Homo sapiens: one gene and its partners. The protein of the gene in region 3 purifies or fractionates together with the protein of the main gene of each other region. This does not show direct contact. Each region holds a gene or a part of one and is shown on either strand. Other genes may lie near its edges.

Region 1 (4,573 bases), on a different chromosome or scaffold from region 3:
TGGCCTGAGGCTCCAGATGAATGGGAGGGGAGAGAGTTGGGCATTTTAGACCAGCTGGGAAATGATTACAAGAGTCCCAGGTAAGAGGCCCCCAGGACGTGAGCTACTACGGCAGCTGCAGGGAACAGGAGGGAGAGGAGGGAAGTGAGCCTGTGCCCACAGGCACCTTCGCCCTGCCCTGATGTCCTTTGCTCCTCACTCCGACCCCATTGCATGCACCATTCATGAGACTTATTCTGAATTGCATCTTTTCCTCCAAGACTTTATCTGCCTCCTGGTGCATAACAGTCCTTCATTAAACATGCATTGAATGAATGAACAAGTGAGGAAAGAGTCTGGACTCAGGTGGACATAAAGACGGCCTGAATAGGAATCAAGAGGAAAGAGCTGTCAAAGATGCCCCATGGGCAGCGCCCTGACCAAGGAGAGGGCTTGTGACAACTACTGCTGCCCCACCCACCCCCAACACCATGGCCACCACATCTGTTGACCTAGCCCCAGACTGGGCCAGAAATCCTGGGCATCACTCTGCAAACATTCATTCCCTCGTCCATGCCCACAACACAGCAGCACAGCCGCACAGCAACACAGCAGCACAGCCGCACAGCCGCACAGCCGCACAGCCGCACAGCATCACAGCATGACAGCAGCACAGCCGCACAGCATCACAGCAGCACAGCATGACAGCAGCACAGCAGCGCAGCATCACAGCCGCACAGCAACACAGCAGCACAGCCGCACAGCAACACAGCAGCACAGCAGCAGATGCACTCCCTGTTCTGGAGAAGAAAAGTGACATAGCTTGTGCCCAGTAGAGCCTGCCAGCGATCAGGACAAATCCATGCAGCTGGCGTCCCCATGGCCCTGTCTAGACCCTGATGTCAACACGTCTGCTGTTATAGTTATTATCGTTGTGAGGAATACTGTCATCATTGGTGTTGTTAACATGGGTGACAACAACAGGAGTAACAAAAACTACCATTTACCAAGCACTCAATGACTTGCACCAGGAACAGGCTGAGGCAGTTTCACCAAAATTCCTTTATGTAAGTAACCCTCTCAACAGTGCTAAGAAGTAAGTATTGACATTTTCATTTTGCAGATGAGAAGCATGGATTCTGGGACGTCAGGTCTATGGGCCATCCAGGTCAGAACTCTCTTGACCTCACCCTGCAACGGGTCCTCCAAGGACCATGAGCCTTGGGGGAGGCGGGAACCAGGTCTGATTCAACTCCGTATGACCAGGTGCAGCACAATGTAGGGCTCAATCTGAGTTGGAATATGACACCAAGAGGAACATCCCAAGTCCCCGAGTCAGGGGTCTGCGCCCCGGTGGACAGTGGGGTCTGAGAGCGACCACCTACCGAGGCTCCTCTTCTCGGCGTGGGGGGGTCTGCAGCTGGATGGGACCCAGGACGACGTCCACCTTTTCCTGGTAGGAGCCCACATCCCTCTTCGACCTCAACACACAGCCTCGGTAGCAGCGGGAAGAGGGGTCATACGCTCTGCACACCACCATTTTACAACGCAGGTACACGGAGGGGAAGCGGTTCAGGAAGTGGAAGGCCCTGAACCGGAAGCGGGCAATGCGAAGAGATGGCGAGGAGTAGGGTCCGTAGGTGTCATCCCTCACGCATCTGGAAGAGAACAGTAGCCCCTTAGCTCTCACCAAGGCCCGATTCTTCCTTCATGACTCAGTTGTACCAGGTGAGGAACTCCACAGCCTGTCCTCACTGCCCCTGCCTCCTGCACACCTCACCTTCCTTCTGTCAGAACGTGTGGATCAGACACTCACTGAGGGGCCTGCAGAGAAATCCTGGCAGCTCCGGTACCTCACCGCCATCCTTAGGCAGCAAAGCCTGTGAGAGCTTTCCCGATAGACAAGCAGGTCCCATACTGCACAGTGGGTTGAGGCCTAATCCCACAATGACCACATGCTCCATGCACCCAGGTAAACCAGATGAGTCAGGGAAGTAGCTGGAGTTTGGAGCCCAGGAGCGGGACCCAGAGACAGGGCAGAAAAGTAAATGACCTTCCCTTCTCTCACCTGGTGTCAGGGCCAGGCAAGGTCTCATTCGGCTGCACTCTGAGTACAGTGCCCTGACCCTCCCTCTCCCAGGGCCTCTCTTTCCTGACCCTCCTCAGCCTGCCCTGAGCCCCATGCAGCTGTACGTTCCACACTGGCCTGCGAACCCTCCAGGAGCCCCTATACCGATATAAACCCCCTCCTCATTCCCTGGGGCACCTCCTCTCAGCAGGGGTCAGAGGGAAAATAACCTAAGGATATGCTTACAGGAATTTTCCTAAGATGGAAGAAGCAGCTCACACTAACCCAGTTATTATAGATTGGTGGGATTTTGAAGGGCATGGCAAAGAGAAAAGCCAGGAAAACTGGCCCACTGGCCTAGGATGGGCATTTCTCGTGGGTGGTGGATGTGGTCTCCAGGGCAGTCTGGCTCAGCCTGGGAACCTGGCCAGGATCTGCTCCCCTCCTTCTGTCTTCTAGAGCCTCCTTCCTTCCTCCATAGGCAACCCAGATTCTCTCAAATACCAAGTTTTCTTTTTTGTTTTTGTTTTTTTTTTCACAGTAGCTCCCTTAGTGGCAAAGGAGGAAGCAAAAATAGCCAGAGGCTTGTTCAGAGGTGGGACACTTGGGAAAAAGGTCAGGGTCACTTAGAAGCCCCTGGGCAGTCATTGCATTTGCCGTAAAACCCTGCCATTCAGGGCTCCACGCAGACCAGAATGCCACAGCGAAGCCACAGCCATGACTCCACCTCAGAATCACTCAAGATTTTTTAAACGTAACATGCCCAAGCCCCACCAGGCCAAACAGAGAATGTATGGGTAGGGCCTGGGCAGGGTGTGTTTGGAGCCCCAGGTCATTCTAATGGACTTCCAGGTGGATGATCTTGTTGATGGCCAGGTGTAGCCAATAAGTCCCTGTGCTCCAGGTATAGCCAGGGTACATCTACCCCTGCACACACATCCCCGTCTTCCCAGCAAATTGCATTGTCATATAGAAATGGCAGGATTTGACCAGAAAGAATCCTTTGGCAAGGAAGAACTAAGGTCACCCACTCATTTTCATTAATGTCAATCAATTCACACAAATTCAAAAGTCACCTTATGACTATTTGTACAACGGGAATCTGGTTAAGCTTTCTCCCCTCCTCTCAGCCACCAAGGGGGCTGCTGTGAATTGAGCAAGCTGCATAGACTGTAAACAAGGTGAGCCTCAACACCTACCTACTGAACTGACATATGTTCACACTGTGCCTGGAAAGAGGTGCTACGTTTAGCATATCAAGAGGGTGTCGAATTGAATCTGCCCACCTCTAATTCCTAGTAGAACTCTTTATCCTATTGGTATAAATTCTCTTGGAAGGCAATGGCTACTGAAGTGTCCAGGTCTATATTGTAAGCCAAGAAGTGTGGTACACATCTATCAACAGAGACTTCAGAGGGGGCTGGAGTTGCACATCATGGTGTCATCATGAGTGCAGAAGAGTCAAACCCCACTTCACCCACATGCAGTCATCCAGGGAAGCTGGGCTATGGTAGAGCAGCCCAGCCTGCACACCCTCTGGCCCCAGCCTGACATCTCTGGCCTGACCTCTGCACCTCCTGAGCTTGACTGGAACCCGTGGACTCCCAGAGCTTCTATTCCCAGGCTGAAGGAGGGCAGCAGGGCTCCTGCCATCTTCAGTGCACATTCCTGGTGGACCACCTGCTGCACACTCTCTGTGCTCAGTGCCACATCCACTCTCTCTCATCCCATCCTCCCAACAGCCTTACAATGTGCGTGTCATTATCCCCACTTGACAGGCGAGCAACTGGTCCATAGAGGTGCTTTCACTGGCCCAGAATCATGCAACTGGCACGTGGCAGAGCTGGCATTTCAACCTTGGTCTGCTCCAAATCAATGCTTTTCCCACTATACGCAGGTCTTTTTAACCGTATGGCTGGAGTTCAGTCACCTAGAGTCTGATCACGGTTTACAGCTAACCTGCTGAGTGAACACTGCTGAGCTGTTCTATTCTCCAGAAACCCATCTCCCCAGATGTTAACTGGAGATGATACATGGTCATCCTACCTGATGAGAAATCAGGGATGTGATACAGAACACAGAGTAAAAGCACCTCAAAGGTGAAAGCTACAGGACATCACTACATGTAGAAAGGGATCCAGTTAAGCTGGAAGTACTGGGAACTGCAGTTCATCAAAATTTGCATTCTTCAAGCCTTTGGGGCTACTCATGTTTGAGTTATCAAGTAAAGGTTTAAGGCCATCGCATAAAGACACTCCTTACCCACTCCGGATTAGATCATAAGTCAAAGACGTGAAGTCATTGGAGTATGGTGATGCCACGCAGGTGTCCACAAACAAGGTCAGTACAGCATCAGAATGGAGGATTTCAGCCTGAACGTACAAGTCCTGGTTCAGGTCCACGTAGTAAGGGCGGCTGGTCACAGGATACAAGAAAGATGAGGAAGTATAAAAGGAAATGTTCACGTCAAAATTGCCATACTGGACTTCCTCGACCTGGATGGTGTTATTAGCAACGTGGATGGTG
Region 2 (8,608 bases), on a different chromosome or scaffold from region 3:
CACTTGAGCGTAGGGACATGCGAGGAGAGCGCCGGGGCCGGAATGGCACAAAGTCCTCATCATTGGGGTCATCTACCATGGCATCAGAATCCTCATCTGACACTGGAACTGAGAAAGTGGGGGGATGGACATGAGAAAGGCCACCAAACCAGGTCTCCAACCATCCCCTGACCAACAGTTCAGTCCCTCTCCTGGGATCCCTGTTGTTCCGGCCTTTACACCCTGGCCCTTGTTACATCAGTATCTTAAGACCTTGGTGTCTCTCTCCCTTGGTTACTCTGTAACCTCCCAGGGAGGGAAAGGGAGAGGCTCTAAATGAGAAGATTCGGAGACAGAGATGGCATAGCTGAAACAGGAAACTCGCCATTCTCACTGCTCTTGTTTTCAATTTCCCCCACTGCCCCTGGTTCCCATGCCAACCCATAGCAGAGACAGGCACTTCATGCGCTTCATGGAGCAGGACGGCAGGAGCTAGAAGATCCATGCCCTGCCGCATGCCACTTTCGGACCTTTTCCACACCCAGAACTCCCAGGTCACACTTCCTCAAATCCTACTTACTGCTCTCAGTGGAATCTACAACCTCAGGTTTTGGAGGTTCTGCTCTCCTAACGCGCTCGCTTCTCTTCTGTACCTCGGAAAGATGGGAGGGGAGGAAAACTGACACCCTGGCCAGGCTAACACTAGTACAGGGTTTGGGGGGGGATAGAAGATGGGAGGGGGAAGGGAGAGTGGGGACCCTTGGCCCAGCCCTTAGGAGGAGGGAAGAAAAGGAGGTTGGACTTTCTCCCCAACAAGCAGTAGACACTAGTGCTCCCTCCCTCCTCCTAACTCTCCTTACACACACTCTCTACAGAACAACATCTGGGAGGGAAAATGAAGGGTCTGTCCTTCCCAGAGCTAAGGGGGAACCAGACTCCTTCCAATCCCCTCCCCCTCACCCGTTCAGGCGGCTTCTCACTCGCCTTCGCAGTCAGGCCATCTCCTGCAAAGGAAGCAGAAGGCAGCCTAAATGTTGAGCCTGCCCTCACCACCCTCTCCCCGGCCCAACCCCCGCCTCCATTCCTGGGGAAGAACTTACTCAAAACTGAAAGGGAAAACTCGAGTGCCTGTGGCTTCTTGGGGCCCCTCTCAGGGTTACCTCAGGCTCTGTACTAAGGGTGGGGGGGTGCACGTGCAGCTATTCCATGAAAAAAAAAAAATCTATCCTTCCCACCAGCTTTCTGTCCCAATCCTTGGGGGTTAAGGAAACACAGGTAATATACCTTTCATTAAGAATTTATATTTTACCAATGAAAAACACACACAACCACCCAAAGGTAGCAAAAGGAAAAGGAAGCATCAGTGTATGGGTAGCTTCCCCTGGATTCAGGTGGTTATATAAGCCCTAAGACCCTCGTCACAGCCTGATAGAGGCACACCACTAGGCAGAAGAGGGGAGACACTAGAGCCTCTCAAGTCAAGGTTGTCCCTCCCCTATCAGAGACGCAATCCTAGACCCTGCATTTCTATCGCTCTGCTGAAATCCTTATGCTGTTAGGGGCTCCAGAACCTAGTTACCATTCATCAAACCCAGAAATCCCACTCCCATCTAGAACCAAAAAGCTGTAAAGGTCTTAGAACCAAGAAGCCTGGTGTACTCCCCCAAATCCTGAAGGAAGGACTCTGGCACCAAAAGCCCACTGGGGTAGGAAAAAGGGAACCCTTCCCACCAAATTCACTCCTCCCAACCTACGCTCCCTGAAACCTTACCCCATTCCTCCCCCACAGCCTGTGCCCACCCCTACTTTCCTTAATCTTCCTCTACACACCACCCCACTCCTCCCTCGTAAACCCCAAGTCCTTCCCCACACACATCCCTACACTTATCTCTCCACCCTCCTCCTCCCCACTACTTCCCAAAGCACATAGCCACCCCTCCTTACCACCACCCTCTCCCAGCCCTGATTCTCCAGATAATTAGGCAACCTACCTGGCAAGGAAGGATGTGCAGGGGGGCTAGAGCCCCCAGGTTTGGTCTGAGAACTGTTGATTCCATCCCCCAGAGTCTCTCCCACTGAAGGGCTAGGCGGGGCATTTGGGCTCTGTGGCTGCCCTTGGGGAAGCTCCTCCTCCTGCCCAGGGGAGCCCCTTCTTGCAGTAGCTATGGAGGTGGTCTCCTCCTCTTCAATATGTGGGGACTGCAGTGTTATTGGAGAATCTGGAGCCAAAGGCTCTAGTAGCCCCTCAGGTGAACAGGAATTTGCCCCAGCCCCTGGATCAGGTGGTACCACCTCAGGGGTCTGGCCCCCTGGTCCAGGCTCTAGGGTCTGATCTCCTGCATCCCATGCCAGGGTTCCCTCAGGACCGTGGTCCACCTCCGGGGGAGAGGGGGCTTTATAGAGCAGCCCCCCCAGCCCCAGCAACTCAGTGGCTCCATCCAGGACTCCAGGGTCTTTTTCCAGGCCAGCAGGGGTATCAAGCAGGTCCAGGGCTCCCGAGGATGGAGAAGGGCCAGGGGGGGCCCATCCTCGAGTTGGGGCAGTCTGGGATTCCAGTAGATCCTCTCCAAATTCCATGTCTACTGGTAGGTCTCCAGCCAGGGGCTTCTCTGGCAGGGTCAATGGGTCAAATGGACTGGGGAAATCACTGGGGTCCATGAGTATGGCTGGATATGTACTGCAGATTAGGAGTAGAAGAGGGGGCAGTAGAGGTGGTCTTAGCCTGAATTCCTTCTTATATAGGCTCTGAGACACACCCCATCATCCACTTGGATTTCTCATGAGCAGCCCCCACCACCACAATCTACAAGCATTTCCGAAGGCTTTAGTCCTAATGACCACTCCCCCCAATACAGCGCCCCCAGTGGGGAGAGGCGTTCCCCGCCCTGGCCCCGTGCCCACACTGGCCAGGCAGTCGGTCGTTCTACCCGCCCACCCCCCTACTCGACTGCAACTCCCATTCCCTTCCCCCCTTACCTTTTACCCCCCGCAACTCAGGCTGAACGCCCCCTTAGAGTCTCCTAAGGCCGTCGCCACCAGGAGCCTTTCCCGCCCCCGCGATCTCAGTTTCTATTCCCTCCCCACTCTGCAGGAGCCCCCCAGCTCCCCAGTCTTTACCCACCCTGTCTGGCCCCACCCCCCCTCCCCGCGTTGCTAGGTCCTCCCTCGGCCCTTCCCCCGCCCCCACAAACTGCCCTTCGCAACCCCTTCCCCCCAGTTACCTTTCAGGTCGCCCACTTCCTCAGCCCCGTCCCCCTTTCCCATTGCTCCTCCAGTCCTCCCTTCTCCTGTTGCCCACCCCCAACCTCAGGCATTTACAGGAAGACATTTTGGAGCTACGATCTCTCCTTAGACCCCCCCACCACCGCCTCCCGGCTACTGCAAGATCCCGCTTGCAGGTTCGGTTCGGCTTGAGCAGGCCCGACCCCTACCTGCGGCAGGGTTAGTGCAAAGGCTACAAGCCTAGAACTGCAGACAGCGACGGCCCCGCGCTCCTTCTCTACCTCCCTCCCTAGCAGCCGGGACAGGGGTCGCGGCCCCTTTAAATGGCAGCGCCGCTCGCAGCGCCCAGCGCTCTGCACCAGGCGGGCGGGCGGTGCCAGCAACCAACCCCATTGGCTGGCTCGAGGAGGGGGCTCGCGAGACAGCGCCGGCCCCCGGCGCGAGACTCCCAGTCCAGTGGCCGCCTGGAAATTGCGGAGTGGAATGCAGCCACTAGAGACGGCGCCTGAGCCCCCGCCCGGGGCCCCGTTAGTTGAGAAGGAAAAGATAGCCTCTGGAGCTTTGAAGCCGGCCCCCCGGGAAAGGCGGCGTCCCCTTTCCACCCAAGGGCCGAGTGCGCTCACCCACAAAAAACACAGATCTACGCACCTGCTCCCCTTACCTGGCTCAAGAGTCTGGCCCCCGTCACACCCTGCTCGCCCTACCTCCTGGAGCCCACTCTACCCGTGATCCCCTCCTCTCATTCAAATGGTTCCCGGTCCCCTCCCCCTCCCCGTGTCTCTCTTAGCTTCCCACTCGTGTTCACCCCCTCGGCGTCCGCCCCCCTCAATAGTCCCTACCTACGCCATGCAGCAGGCGCCTGCCAAGATTACCCTCCCCCATCCCCACCTCTCCGGGTCCCGCCCCCTGGGCGACTGTTGGGGTAGTGAGTGACAGCGGAGGACGGGGGGAGGCAGGGACCCAGCCCTCACGTGCCCCTCCTTCCCTTGTCTGCAGCCACGGGGCCCCCAAAACAGTCTGAGAGTCAGAGTTATGGGGTATCTGAAGCTTGATCCCCAGCCACACAGGTCGGGTTAAATGGCTCTGGCTCAGTGGCAACGCCTGTGCAGTAACCGTTACTGCTTGATGACCCCCAAACCAGGTCCTGCAAAGCTACCCCCTACTCTCTCAACAGTCTTAGGGTAAGTTCTGGGATCTTCTCCCTGAGTCTTCCTGCAGGAGCTCCCTGTATTATCTATGGAGTTTTCCTCCCTCACCAGGGCTGATCTCTCTCTCTCTCTCTCTCTCTCTCTCTCTCTCTCTCTCTCTCTCTCTCTCTCTCTCTCTCTCTGTATCTCTCTCTCTCTTTCTCCTCCAGCCCCCTTTCTGTCCTTGTCTGTCTCTCTCTTCTCGCTCTCTCTCTCTCTCTCCCCCTATCTCTTTTTGTCTCCTTCTCTGCCTCTCTGCTTCTCGTGCGCACGAGCACGCAGGCGCGCTACACGCTCCCCCCTCCTGGATGGTCCTTAGCATGTGGGTGTGGCTGAGGTTAGGCTAGAGAAGTGGAGTAGGGGTAGGTGGCACTAGCGTTAAGCCTACTGCCTTTAAAAAATTGTGCCAGCATCCATTCTCAGTCCGCATTATATTAATAGTTAGAGCACTTTACAATCCCCGCTCCCCACTTCCCACCACAGCCCCTAAGGGCTGAGAGCATTTAGTAGCCGAACTACTAGAGGAGGCTCAGGCTGGAAGGAAGTCTCCTTAGGAACAGGAAGGTTTGGTATCCAGTGCCTATTCTAGCCTGCCTCGTTGACTTCTGGCCTCTCCTCCTGGCCACACAAAGCCTCTCCTGCTCTTGTAGTCCTCGGGAGTTTACCCTCCCTTTTCTCATTCCTTTTCCCAGAAACCTTATCCTTGCTAGCTCCCCACATGGCCTTGAGGTTATCTTTGCTCCCTCCTACATACAGAGATAAAAGCCAGAGTTTCTTACTTTTAGATTTCCCAAATCCAGCTTTCTCTTTGTCTTAACCAGCATTCTGTGTACCCATCTCCTACCTCCTGTTTATTTCTATTCCTGGACCTCCCCTTTGCATTTTCTGCTTGTTCCATCTCAGTTGAGCCACCTAGTTTTTTCTGTATTGCCTGCCTTCCTCAACATATACTTGAATCCTTGGCTGCTCTGCTTGTGGAGGTGCCTGGTCACTATCTTTCAAGTTGAGGGGAGCTGATCTAACGGGGTTAAGTGGTGTGTTATTAATTCTAGACGCAGTGTGGTGGCCTAAGAATGGGTTCTGGAGTCAGACCAGATTTCTAATATCAGTTCTGCCTACTTTTTAGCCAGGTGACTTTGGACAAGTGACTTGTCAAGTGAAGGGCCTTAGTTTTCTCCTCTTTAAAACAGATAAGGAAACAATCTAAATGCCCAATAATAGGGGATTTTGGTTATGCAACAGACGTAGTCATTAACAACCACATTTTAAGTCTGGCGCAGTGACTCACGCCTGTAATCCTGGCACTTTGGGATGCCAAGACGGTTGGATCCTTTGAGCCCGGGAGTTCCAAACCAGCCTGAGCAACATGGTGAAACCCCTTCTCTACAAAAAATACAAAAAATTAGCAAGGTGTGCTGGTGTGCACCTGTAGTCCCAGCTACTCAGGAGGCGGAGGTGTGAGGATCACTTGAGCTGGGAGGCAGAAATTGCAGCGAGCTCAGATGGCGCCACTGCACTCCAGCCCGGGGCGACAGACGAGGGCTCTGTCTCAAACCAAACAAAACAAAACCCCACATTAAAAAAACAAAAACAAAAAACAACTAATGGCAGACAGCACAGAGGATTTTTACGGTAGCGAAAATACTCTCATGATACTGTAATAGTGGATACTTGTAAGTATACATTTGTTCAAAGATACAGAATGTAAACACCAAGGGTGAACTAACTCTAATGTAAACCGCAGGCTTTGGTTAGTAATGATGTGTTAATGTAGGTTCATCGATTTTAACAAATTTACCACTCTGATAGGGATGTTGGTAGTCAGGGGAGCCGTGACTGCATGGGGGAAGGAGGTATATGGGACTCTCCGGACCTACCTGTCAGTTTTGCTGTGAAACTAAAATTGCTCTTAAAAAATAAAATCTTTATTTAAAAAAATTAAAACCCATAGAATGTACAACACCAAAAGGAAGCCCTTATGTAAACTATGGCCTTTGGTTGATAATGTGTCACTGTATATTCATCACTGCAAGAAATTTACCACTCTGGACAGGATGTTGATAGGGAGGCTGTGTCTGTGTGTGGAGAGGGGTACAAAGGACTCTTGATACTTTCAGCTCAATTTTGCAGTGATGCCAAAACTGCTCTAAAAAATAAAGTGGGCCTGGTGCAGTAACTCCTGTAATCCCAGCACTTTGGGAGTCAGGAGAATCGCTTGAACCCGGGAGGCGGAGGTTGTGGTAAGCTGAGACTGAGCCACTGCACTCCAGCCTGGGCCACAGAGCGAGACTTCATCTCTCAAATATATATATATATATGTTTTGTTTTGTTTTGTTTTGTTTTTGAGACGGAGTCTTGCTCTGTCGCCCAGGCTGGAGTGCAGTGGCCCAATCTCAGCTCACCGCAAGCTCCACCTCCCGGGTTCACGTCATTCTCCTGCCTCAGGCTCCCGAGTAGCTGGGACTACAGGCGCCCGCCACCACGCCCGGCTAATTTTTTGTATTTTTAGTAGAGATGGGGTTTCACCGTGTTAGCCAGGATGGTCTCAATCTCCTGACCTCGTGATCCACCCGCCTCGGCCTCCCAAAGTGCTGGGATCACAGGCGTGAGCCACCGCGCCTGACCGTAAATAAAATTTTTATTTAAAAAAATTTAGGCCGAGCGCAGAGGCTCACGCCTGTGATCCCAGCACTTTGGGAGGTCGAGGTGGGTGGATTGCTTGAGCTCAGGAGTTGGAGACCAGACTGGGCAACACGGTGAAACCCCATCTCTACCAAAAGCACAAAAAATTATCCAGGCGTAGTGGTGCACGCCTGTGGTCCCAGCTACTCAAGAGGGTAAGGCTGGAGGTTGCAGTAAGCCGAGATTGTGCCACTGTCCCCAGCCTGGGCGATAGAGCAAGACTCTGTCTCAAAAAAATAAATAAATATATAAATAAAAATAATTTTCTGCATTTTGTATTTACTAAACTTTTTTTTTTTTTTTTTGAGACAGAGTCTCACTCTGTCTCCCAGGCTGGAGTGCAGTGGCATGGTCTCGGCTCACTGCAACCTCTGCTTCTCAGGTTCAAGCGATCCTTATGCCTCAGCCTCCCGAGTAGCTGGAACTACAGGCGTGTGCCACCACACCAGCTAATTTTTGTATTTTTTTTAGTACAGATGGGTTCCACCATGTTGGCTATGGTTGGTCTCGAACTCCTGACCTCAAGTGATCCACCCACCTCGGCCTCCCAAAGTGCTGGGATTGCTAAAGGCGTGAGCCACCACTCCCAGCCTTGTATTTTCTAAACTGTTCTACTGAGCACATATTGTTTTTATAATCATGAAAAAATGTTAGCACCTAAAAATAAGGGCTGGCCAGGCACGGTGGGAGGCCGCACTTTGGGAGGCCGAGGCGGATGGATCATTTGAGGTCAGGACTTCAAGACCAGCTTGACCAACGTGGTGAAACCCGTCTCTACTAAAAAATACAAAAATTAGCTGGCGTGGTGGCAGCTCAGGAGTTCGAGACAAGCCTGGGCAACATGGTGAAACCCTGTCTCTACCAAAAATACAAAAAATTATCTGAGGGCAGTGGTGCATGCATGTGGTCCCAGCTACTCGGGAGGGTAAGGCTGGAGGTTGCAGTGAGCCAGGATTGTGCCACTGCCCTCCAGCCTGGGTGATAGAGCAAGACCCTGTCTCAAAAAATATATATATATAAATAAAAATAATTTTCTGCATTTTGTATTTCCTTTTTTTTTTTTTTTGAGATGGAGTCTCGCTCTTGTTGCCCAGGTTGGAGTGCAGTGGCGCGATCTTGGCTCACTACAACCTCCACCTCCCAGGTTCAAGCGATTCTCCTGACAGGCTTAATTTTTTTGTTTTTGTTTTTGTTTTTGAGACGGAGTCTCGCTCTGTTGCTCAGGCTAGAGTGCAGTGGCACAATCTTGGCTCACTGCAAGCTCCGCCTCCCAGGTTCACACCATTCTCCTGCCTCAGCCTCCCTGTAGCTGGGACTACAGGCACCCGCCACCATGCCCAGCTAATTTTTTGTATTTTTAGTAGAAACGGGGTTTCACCGTGTTAGCCAGGATGGTCTCGATCTCCTGACCTCATGATCTGCCCGCCTCAGCCTCCCAAAGTGCTGGGATTATAGGCGTGAGCCACCGTGCCTTGCCAACATTTTGTTTTTTAAGGAGTCGATGTGCATAGAAAGAGGCTGGCTTTTACAGTCAGAAA
Region 3 (8,976 bases):
ATTCTGGTGCAGAACCCTGAGGATTCCAAATAAAATACAAATCTGAACCTGGCCTTCCAGGCCATTGTGAAGTATGTATTTGTCAATATATTTGTCAAGGTAGAAGAACAGAATATATTTTGTGTAACAGTTTGTTAGCCTGAATTATACTTTTTTTTTTTTTTTTTTGAGATAGCTCTGTCGCCCTGGCTGGAGTGCAGTGGTGTGATCTCGGCTTACTGCAACCTCTGTCTCCTGGGTTCAAGTGATTCTCCTGGCTCAGCCTATCAAGTAGCAGACATGCACCACCATGCCTGGCTAATTTTTTTTTTTTTTTTTTTTTTCACAGAGTCTTGCTCTGTCCCCCAGGCTGGAGGGCAGTGGCGCGATCTTGGCTGACGGCAAGCTCCGCCTCCCAGGTTCATGCCATTCTCCTGCCTCAGACTCCGGCTGGAACTACAGGCACCCGCCACCATGCCTGGCTAATTTTTTTTTTGTATTTTTAGTAGAGATGGGGTTTCACTGGGTTAGCCAAGATGGTCTCGATCTCCTGACCTCGTGATCCGCCCGCCTCGGCCTCCCAAAGTGCTGGGATTACAGGCGTGAGCCACTGCGCCTGGCCTAATTTTTGTATTTTTAGTAGAGACAGGGTTTCATGTTGGCCAGGCTGGTCTTGAACTCCTGACCTCAAATGATCCACCCGCCTCAGCCTCCCAAAGCGCTGGGGTTATAGGCATGAGCCACTGCGCCGACCCTGAGTTATACATTTTAATCTTTTTTTTTTGAGACAGGGTCTCGCTCTGTTACCCAGGCTGGAGTGCAGTGGTGCAATCATAGCTCACTGCAGCCTTGAACTCCTGGGCTCAAGCTATCTCCCACTTTAGTCTCCCAAGCAGTTGGGACTACAGGTGCACACCACCATGCCTGGCTACTTTTTTATTTTTTGTAGAGAAGAAGTCTCACTATGTTGTTCAGGCTGGTCTTAAACTCCTGGGCTCAAGTGATCCTCCAGCCTCTGCCTCCCAAAGTGCTGGGATTACAAGGCATGAGCCACCACACCCAGCCCATTTTAAATATTTAAACACAAGGTTTGAGGGCCTCTATTTGTACTCCTGCCGCAGGTCCTACATATGTTAGAGATGTGTCTACATAAAAACAAACCATTTAAACAGAGATGAATGTGCTAAGAAGAAGAAGGGCAGGGTGCTATGAAATTTTCTTCCACGAAGACATACTCTAATACAAAGCCAGAGGGGATGCATCACAGGGACAGGTTGCCTAAGAAAGTCATGCTAAACCAAGACTGGTCAGGTGAATAAGAAGTGACCCTGCCTGGAGGTGTGGACAGGGTGGGAATTCCAGGCGGCAGAAACAACATATGCAAAGGTTGTGAGGCAGGAAAGATGTAGACATGTTCACAAAACTGAGAAAAGATCCACGTAGCCAGAGAGTAGAAAGCCTGGAAGGTGGGAAGAACAGTGATAGCTGAGGCTGGAGAAGTCAGCAGGGGCCAGATCATGCAGAGCCTGGGAGGTCACATTAAGGGTTTGGGCTTTATTCTAAGAGCAGGGAGAAGCTACTGAAGGGTTTTCAGTAGAGACATGATGTGATCAGATTTGTGTTCGGAAGGATCACGTATGTCAGCACTTTGTGTTTGTGGAGGAAGGCAACAATGAAATAAGAGTCAGATTAGAGGACTAATGCCGTAACCAAGTTGAGCCTGAGGAATATTTGCAACTGGAAGCACACTCTGAGACAGAAACTTGTGTGCAGGTGGTTTACTCGGGGGGGGGGGGGGGGCACGGGGGGGGACTTTCAAAGAAAGAGTAGCAGGACCCAAGAGAGGGAACAGTTGAATGGCACTGCAGTTGTAATCAGCTGAGCCTAAAGAGCTCTGGGGCTGGGATGGACCTTCAGAGTTGTCCCAAACTGAGACAAAGGGCTAGGCCTCTGTACTTTATAACAACCATTCATTGGATACATACTGCCCCCAGGAAGCGGGCATTGCATTTGGTGAGACAGCTCCCTTTGGCCACAGATAGTGCTCAAGGAAGTACTCAGCTGTGAGCTATCAGCAGCCAACACTCAGCAGCTGGAACAATGAGCATCATGATCCTGAAGCGGGAATCTGGGCTACACACCACAGCATCACTACTCGGGCTGTGAGACTTCAGGGATGAACCCAGAGGCCCCAGAGAGGACAATGCAGATCACACTCTGCCCCCTGGTGGTACTCCTTGGACATAGGGCCAGCTGGTGGGCCAGGCTCTCCCGGCAGGGAACTAAAGAAAAGTGTGTGGCAGATAAGGGGAAATGAGCAGTGCAAGGAAATCTGCACGTGAGCCCCTTGCTCCATCTGCCTAAAGCTAGAGAAGAAAGTAATGGTGGGGAAGAAGAATTCAGAAACGTGGCACTCATTCATTCTTTTATTCAACCAACTTTTATTAAGTGCCTGTTATAGGCCAGGTACTGCTGGGAACTAGGAGAAAAACAAGACTGAAATCATCACTCTAGTGAGGATTACAGAGATATAAAAGTAACTACAGTATAGTAAAGTACAAAAATATAGGCATATACATGGGATAGAAGCAACACAGATGAAATAGATGTTCATTCTAAGGGACGAACAGAAAAGGCCTGTGTGTGTGTGTGTGTGTGTGTGTGTGTGTGTGTGTGTGTGTGTGTTAGAGACAGAGTCTCACTGTGTTGCCCAGGCTGGAGTGCAGTGGTGCGATCTCGGCTCACTGCAACCTCCGCCTCCCGGGTTCAAGCGATTCTCCTGCCTCAGCCTCCTGAGTAGCTGGGACTACCGGCGTGCGCCACCACACCAAGCTAATTTTTGTATTTTTAGTAGAGACGGGGTTTCACCATGTTGGCCAGGATGGTGTGTGTTTAATTTGAGTGCAGATGCCCAGAAAAAGTTCACAGAAGTGCTCTGGAAACTTCAGAGTTCAGTACGTAGGAGAAAAGGAGGCAAGTGGGGATGTGGGGGTGACAACATTAGATAAATAGGAGTCAGATTATGAAGGACATAAGATATCATGTGATGGAAAGAGCCTGGAAGAGATTTTAAGCTTAAGAGTGATATGATCTAATTTTTAATGGTAAATCAAGGGGACAGTATAGGATTTATAGGGAGAGGGGGACTTGGTAATTAGAGTCAGAAAGATATGGATTCAGATTCCATTTCTCCTGCTAACCATTTGTGTGACTTTGAGCAAATGACTCTTTTTTTTTTCAATATACACAAAGCAATTTTATTTGTATGTACTTGTGGTAAACAATTAGAACATTTCATTCATAATAGGATAAAAGTATAAAATATTCATGAATAATTTTTTTTCAGAACAGGAATGGAAGTTTATTAAAAAGCTTTAGAGCAGGAATGAAAGAAAGGAAAGTACACTTGGAAGAGGCCCAAGCAGGCATCTTGGAGGTCAAGTGCGGCATTTGACCTTTGATTTAGGGTGTTATATGTTGGCATACTTCTGGGGTCCTGCCTCCCTTTTTCCTTGATTCTTCCCTTAGGGTGACCGAGCAAATGACTCTTTAAGCCCGTGTCCACATATGTAAAATATAGTTGTGAAACAGAATGAGATTATGCATGCAGAGTTGCTGACACAGAGCCTGGCACCTACTGTCCATAGCATAAACATTATTCTTCTCTCTTAACTTTCCAAGTGGATTTGCATGCACAGTGTGGGGAGTGGCTTGGTAGGGAGAGGGGTTGGTGTTTGGAGAGGCAGGAGTCCAAGAAGTGCCTTAGAAGCTATCACCTGAAGCCAGGTGAGAGATAAGCCCTGAACTAAGGCCCTGGCCATGGGGATAGTTGCAGACTTGAGGGCTAATTGAGAAGTACAATTCCAAAGGTCCTGGCATCTGATTAGCTATGCAGGATAAGAATAGTCTAGACTGATTCCCTTTGGGGCAACTGGCCAGATGATGGTGCCATTTGCTGAGGTAGGAAACCATGAGAGCAGGTGCAGGATTATGGAGAAGATGATGACCTTCAGGTCAACCATGCTGCCACCAGTGTGCACACCTTTAGGCCCAAAGGTTGGCCAAGAGGTATGTGTTTGCAGCTGGGTAAGTGTGGACAGAGTTTGGATCTATGAACTGGGGGGAAAGAGATCCAAATACATATACCTGAGGTTGAGTGTAGGCTAGAGCCTGAGGGGGAAGAGACGGGGACCAGTAGCAAGCCCGTGGCTGGAGACCAGCTCTCCTTATCCCACTATGTTCCAGCATAGAACTCCAAGAAATCTGAGAATCAAGACTGTTTCTGTTGCAAGTGGCAGAACTCCAATTAAAATTAGCTTGAGCAAGAGAAGAAATGCATCAATTCCTGTAACTGAAATCAGGAATCCATTGCTCGCCATCTCCCTGCTCTGCTTCCTCTAGGCTGGCTTCTGTCTCAGCCAGGTTCCTGCTTTGCAGTGCCAAGCTAACACTCAGCAGCTCCAGGCTTATATTCTACCAGCTCAGCAACTCAGCAGAAAGAGAGCTAACTTCCAAAGTTTTAGAAAAAGTCCCAGAGAGGGATCTCATGCCCATCCTTGAACATCCTTGATTGCTGTGGCCAGAGTGAGGAACACAAAAGTTGGCTAAGCTGCAAGCCTACCCCCAAGAGGGGTGACATCAGACCCACATGACAATACAGACTGAGGAGATGGTTCCCCAAAAGAAAATCAGGGTGCTATTACCAGAAAAGGCGAGTGGATGCTGAGCAGACACCCATCATAGATATGCTGAGTTTGAGGTGCTATATAGCATTGTGGGTGATATCCAGTGGTCTCAGGTTGGAGAGAGATGTCCCAATGGAGGTATAGCTTGAGAAATCACCTGAGGACTTTATGATGGTAGTTGGGTGGGCAGATGAGTTTCCTCATTGGATTGTGGAGAGAAAGAATGACCAGGCCGGGCGTGGTGGCTCACGCCTGTAAATTCCAGCACTTTGGGAGGCCAAGGCAGGCGGATCACGAGGTCAGGAGTTGGAGACCAGCTTGGCCAGCATGGAGAAACCCCGTCTTTACAAAAAATACAAAAAATCAGCCGAGTGTGGTGGCAGGCGCCTGTAATTCCAGCTACTCTGCAGGTTGAGACAGGAGAATTGCTTGAACCCGGGAGGCGGAGTGTGCAGTGAGCCGAGATCGCGCCACTGCACGCACTCCAGCCTGGGTGACAGAGTAAGACTCCGTCAGGGGAAGAGGGGATGTGCCGGGGGAGGAGAATGACCAGATCAGAGGACCAAGGAAGAGACCCAGGGGTAGAGAGACTCCACCATTTCATGGCAAGGCAGAAAGGAGCCTTGATCAGGAGGAGAAACGGGGATTTAGGAGTTGGGGACTAAGTGGACCTTAGCATTGGGCACTTGGACTACAGAAAGGCCCAGGACTCAGGGTGTCGCGTCCCCAGGAGGAGGAACTGGAAAGGCAATGCCCAACCCCCTAACTTCTAGACGTCTGGCCCCTGTAGTCTCCCGCCCCTGGCCTCGCCCCTCGTTCCTAGCTTGTTTGCCACCTAGTGTCTCTCCCGGGAGCAAGAGTCCTCAAAGTTACATCATGTGCGGCTGGGAGGGCGGTGGCGGATGGGGGGCGGGGCCTCGAAGTCGGGGGCCGAAGAGTGGACCCAGTCCTCCAATGGGAGAGATGGGTTTGGCGGTTTGGAGGCAGGGGTTGGGGCGGCGGCTGGGCTGACCTGGAGCCTGGAGCCCCGGGGCCGAGGGAGCTGGCCTGCCAGCGGGGCGGAGGAAAGCTAGTGCCAGCCCTACCAGGTTCCGCCCCCGCGCCTGCCCCCCTCCTTTTTAAGCGCCTCCCGCCAGCCTCTGCTGTGGCTCGCTTCGCCGCGCTCCCTCCTTCCCCGCCTTCCATACCTCCCCGGCTCCGCTCGGTTCCTGGCCACCCCGCAGCCCCTGCCCAGGTGCCATGGCCGCATTGTACCGCCCTGGCCTGCGGTGAGTGACCCCCGGCCCGGGGCCCACCCGCACCTTCCGCTGCGCTCGCCCCCTCGGGGCTGCCAGTGGCGCTCTCCTGCTCTCAGCCTCCGCCAGGTTTCCCATCCTAGGCGGAGGCGGGCAGGGGCGACTGCTGTGGGTCCAGCCTCCCGCGCCGCGCGTCTCTTGGGAGGGCAGCCGGCCGGTGCTCCTCGTTTCCGCCTGCACCTCCCCTTCTCTGCCTCGCTCGCCTCTGACCGCGCGATCTCTATCTGCCACTCTCAGAACTTCCTCTCTCTCCTCGCTCCTCTCTGCTGAGCCAGGTCTCCGCATATCCTCCTTTCCTTCCCAGATACCTCCCTCGGACCTCTAACGGGCTCTCAGCCAGCGCCCCAGGGTACTTCGAGAGGCAGCAGGGCCCTGGGGACAAGGGTACGTGAGCCCCGGGAGACTAAGCTCAGAGCCCCCTAAAGAAGGTGGAAGGTTAAATATCCATTCCCGGCCTCTCCCGGACTGGAAGGACTGGAACCTGGCGGGAAGTCCAGAGCAGCCCGAGGGACCTGGGCCCAGGGGAGGGAGGCAAGCAAGGTGGGAGGAGGGCGCCAAGTTGCCTTCGTTTCTTACATAGCTGGCTTCTTCCTCCGTCCAGGCCTGGAGCCCCCAGGCTCGTCCTGTTTGTCTGCCTGTCCTCTTAGTCTCCTATTTATTCTCTGAGGCCTCTCTTCTCAGCTTTTGTCCCAGAGTCGGAAGTGACCCACATCTGTCGCACAGCCCGTTCCACTTGGGCAGCCCTTGTGGGTGGTCTCTGAAGGAAACGTCCCACTTAGAGGGCTGCAAGAGGGTGTGGGGGCTTCACAAGAGATAACGTGAGCCAGGCTCCAGGGAGAGAGAGGCTGTCCTCAAGACTGTGTGCTTGAAAACTGATGCTCACGGAGAACTTCCCTCTGAGGCAGGAACAGACCCAGGTCCCAGTAGCCCTCCTCCCCTGCCCCTGGGGCCACACTGATCATCTATCCTGCTTTAGCGGAAACCACCCCAGCTTCTACCCCAGACAGACTCAAGCTCCCGTATCCATGCTCTGAGCTTTCTTCCTTCCCCAGGCTAACACCCTCTGAGTCTGAGCTGCCAGCAAGCTGCTGTTCCACCCTCCCACCAACACCAAAGCTCTCTAGGCATGTGGCCTCTAGGAAGAAGAGCCAGGGGAAGCACGGGGTCACGTGGTCCTGGGTGTGGGGGCAGTTTCTGATGGGCGAGGCCTTGATAGAGGAGGAGAGTAACATCCCCTTCATGGTCTTTGCTCTCTCGGGTTTACTCCACCTTGAGTCCAGGCCAATCAGAGCAGACGTTGCTTCTCTGTCTCCCAGGGCCATGAGAGGACAGACAACAGGACGCTGACCTCCTGAGAATTAAGCCCATGAACCCCAGCCAGTGACACTCATTCCCCAGTGGTCAACCTTCCGCAGAGTTCAGAAATACTTACCCGAGGGCAACATTTTATGCAACCATTGTTGGTCCAAGTGGGCAGCAGCAGATCAGGGCCTGGAAGCCCAGCATCCAGTCACCTATTCTCTGTGCAAGAGCCCTCATCTAGAAACCTGGCACTGGAAAGACTGTGACCTTTGCTTGGGGCTTTCATAGTCTTACAGCATACACACCAGAAGGAAAGAATAAACACAGCTGCCATTTTAATTTATAAAAAACTATACTTGAAAATGGAAATAAAATGGATGAGGCTTCAAATACCAGACATATGAAATTGTCACCTGGGCCCAACTTCTTGTCTTGACACTTGGGCCAAAGGCCCCTACTCATTTCTTTTTTTTTTTTTTTTTTTTTTTTTTTTGAGACAGAGTCTTGCTCTGTCGCCCAGGTTGGAGTGCAGTGTCCCGATCTCGGCTCACTGCAACCTCCACCTCCCGGGTTCAAGCGATTCTCCTGCCTCAGCCTCCTGAGTAGCTGGGACTAGAGGCACACGCCACCACATCCGGCTAATTTTTATATTTTTAGTAGATGGGGTTTCACCATGTTGCCCAGTATGGTCTTGATCTCCTGACCTCATGATCCACCTGCCTCAGCCTCCCAAAGTGCTGGGATTACAGGCATGAGCCACCGTGCCCAGCCATCTCCCTACTTATTTCTAAACGTTGATTAAACAGTTAAACATGGGCATGGGCTACACAGGCAGTAACATCAGCATGCCTACATGTATACTTCCACACAGCCAGGCATGTGCCTTTTTTGCTCATTTGGCCATATCTGTCCCTCGCTGAGCAGGAGACACCCTCCTCAAGCCTCATAAAGGCTACAAGATACATGTGTCCTGAACACATCCCACACACCAACTGCAACCTGCTCTTCATGGTCCCTGCATGCAGACATGTTTTAGCAGGCTGCAGCCCAAGCTTTCTGTCTCTCCACCACCTGCCTTGTCCACTCTCGATGACAGCAACTAGCTCATTGCCTCTGTTTCTCCTATAGGCTTAACTGGCATGGGCTGAGCCCCTTGGGCTGGCCATCATGCCGTAGCATCCAGACCCTGCGAGTGCTTAGTGGAGATCTGGGCCAGCTTCCCACTGGCATTCGAGATTTTGTAGAGCACAGTGCCCGCCTGTGCCAACCAGAGGGCATCCACATCTGTGATGGAACTGAGGCTGAGAATACTGCCACACTGACCCTGCTGGAGCAGCAGGGCCTCATCCGAAAGCTCCCCAAGTACAATAACTGGTAAGCCTTGGGCTCCACAACCTGCAGGATAGGTGCACTGAGGCCACTTTGGGTTCACCAAGGCAAAATCAACTTAACTAGAACATCCCAATGGAATGAACAAGAATGAGAGCTTTGGGGTAAACAGACCCAGAAACTGGGATTTGCTTACGCCTATAATCCCAGCACTTTGAGAGGCCAAGGCGGGTGGATCACCAGGTGTCGGGAGTTTGGGACCAGCCTGACCAACATGGAGAAACCCCGTCTCTACTGAAAAAAAAAAAAAAAAATACAAAAATTAGCCCAGCATGGCAGCGCATGCCTGTAATCCCAGCTACTTGGGAGGGTGAGGCAGGAGAATC

The links. Proteins that work in one complex are often made in the same cells at the same time.
Region 1: the proteins of PCK2 (region 3) and DMBT1 purify together in Homo sapiens (affinity purification with mass spectrometry; 2 studies listed by BioGRID and IntAct, with this or other methods). This does not show direct contact.
Region 2: the proteins of PCK2 (region 3) and ZMYM3 purify together in Homo sapiens (affinity purification with mass spectrometry; 2 studies listed by BioGRID and IntAct, with this or other methods). This does not show direct contact.

The regions. Positions count from the first base shown.
Region 1 is NC_000010.11:122,640,186-122,644,758, reverse strand, and holds the end of DMBT1 (scavenger receptor cysteine-rich domain-containing protein DMBT1 isoform e precursor), read right to left. Parts: coding exon 4,310-4,573; intron 1,638-4,309; coding exon 1,361-1,637; 3' UTR 1,023-1,360; downstream 1-1,022.
Region 2 is NC_000023.11:71,250,619-71,259,226, forward strand, and holds the start of ZMYM3 (zinc finger MYM-type protein 3), read right to left. Parts: upstream 3,523-8,608; 5' UTR 3,411-3,522; intron 3,119-3,410; exon of another isoform or gene 2,956-3,118; intron 2,657-2,955; 5' UTR 2,638-2,656; coding exon 1,971-2,637; intron 984-1,970; coding exon 940-983; intron 627-939; coding exon 560-626; intron 109-559; coding exon 1-108. UniProt on the Homo sapiens protein: Plays a role in the regulation of cell morphology and cytoskeletal organization.
Region 3 is NC_000014.9:24,088,503-24,097,478, forward strand, and holds the start of PCK2 (phosphoenolpyruvate carboxykinase [GTP], mitochondrial isoform 1 precursor), read left to right. Parts: upstream 1-5,808; 5' UTR 5,809-5,903; coding exon 5,904-5,932; exon of another isoform or gene 5,933-5,965; coding exon of another isoform or gene 5,966-6,244; exon of another isoform or gene 6,245-6,343; intron 6,344-6,535; exon of another isoform or gene 6,536-6,628; intron 6,629-8,389; coding exon 8,390-8,635; intron 8,636-8,976. Other genes in the region: NRL (neural retina-specific leucine zipper protein), read right to left, coding at 5,966-6,244. UniProt on the Homo sapiens protein: Mitochondrial phosphoenolpyruvate carboxykinase that catalyzes the conversion of oxaloacetate (OAA) to phosphoenolpyruvate (PEP), the rate-limiting step in the metabolic pathway that produces glucose from lactate and other precursors derived from the citric acid cycle.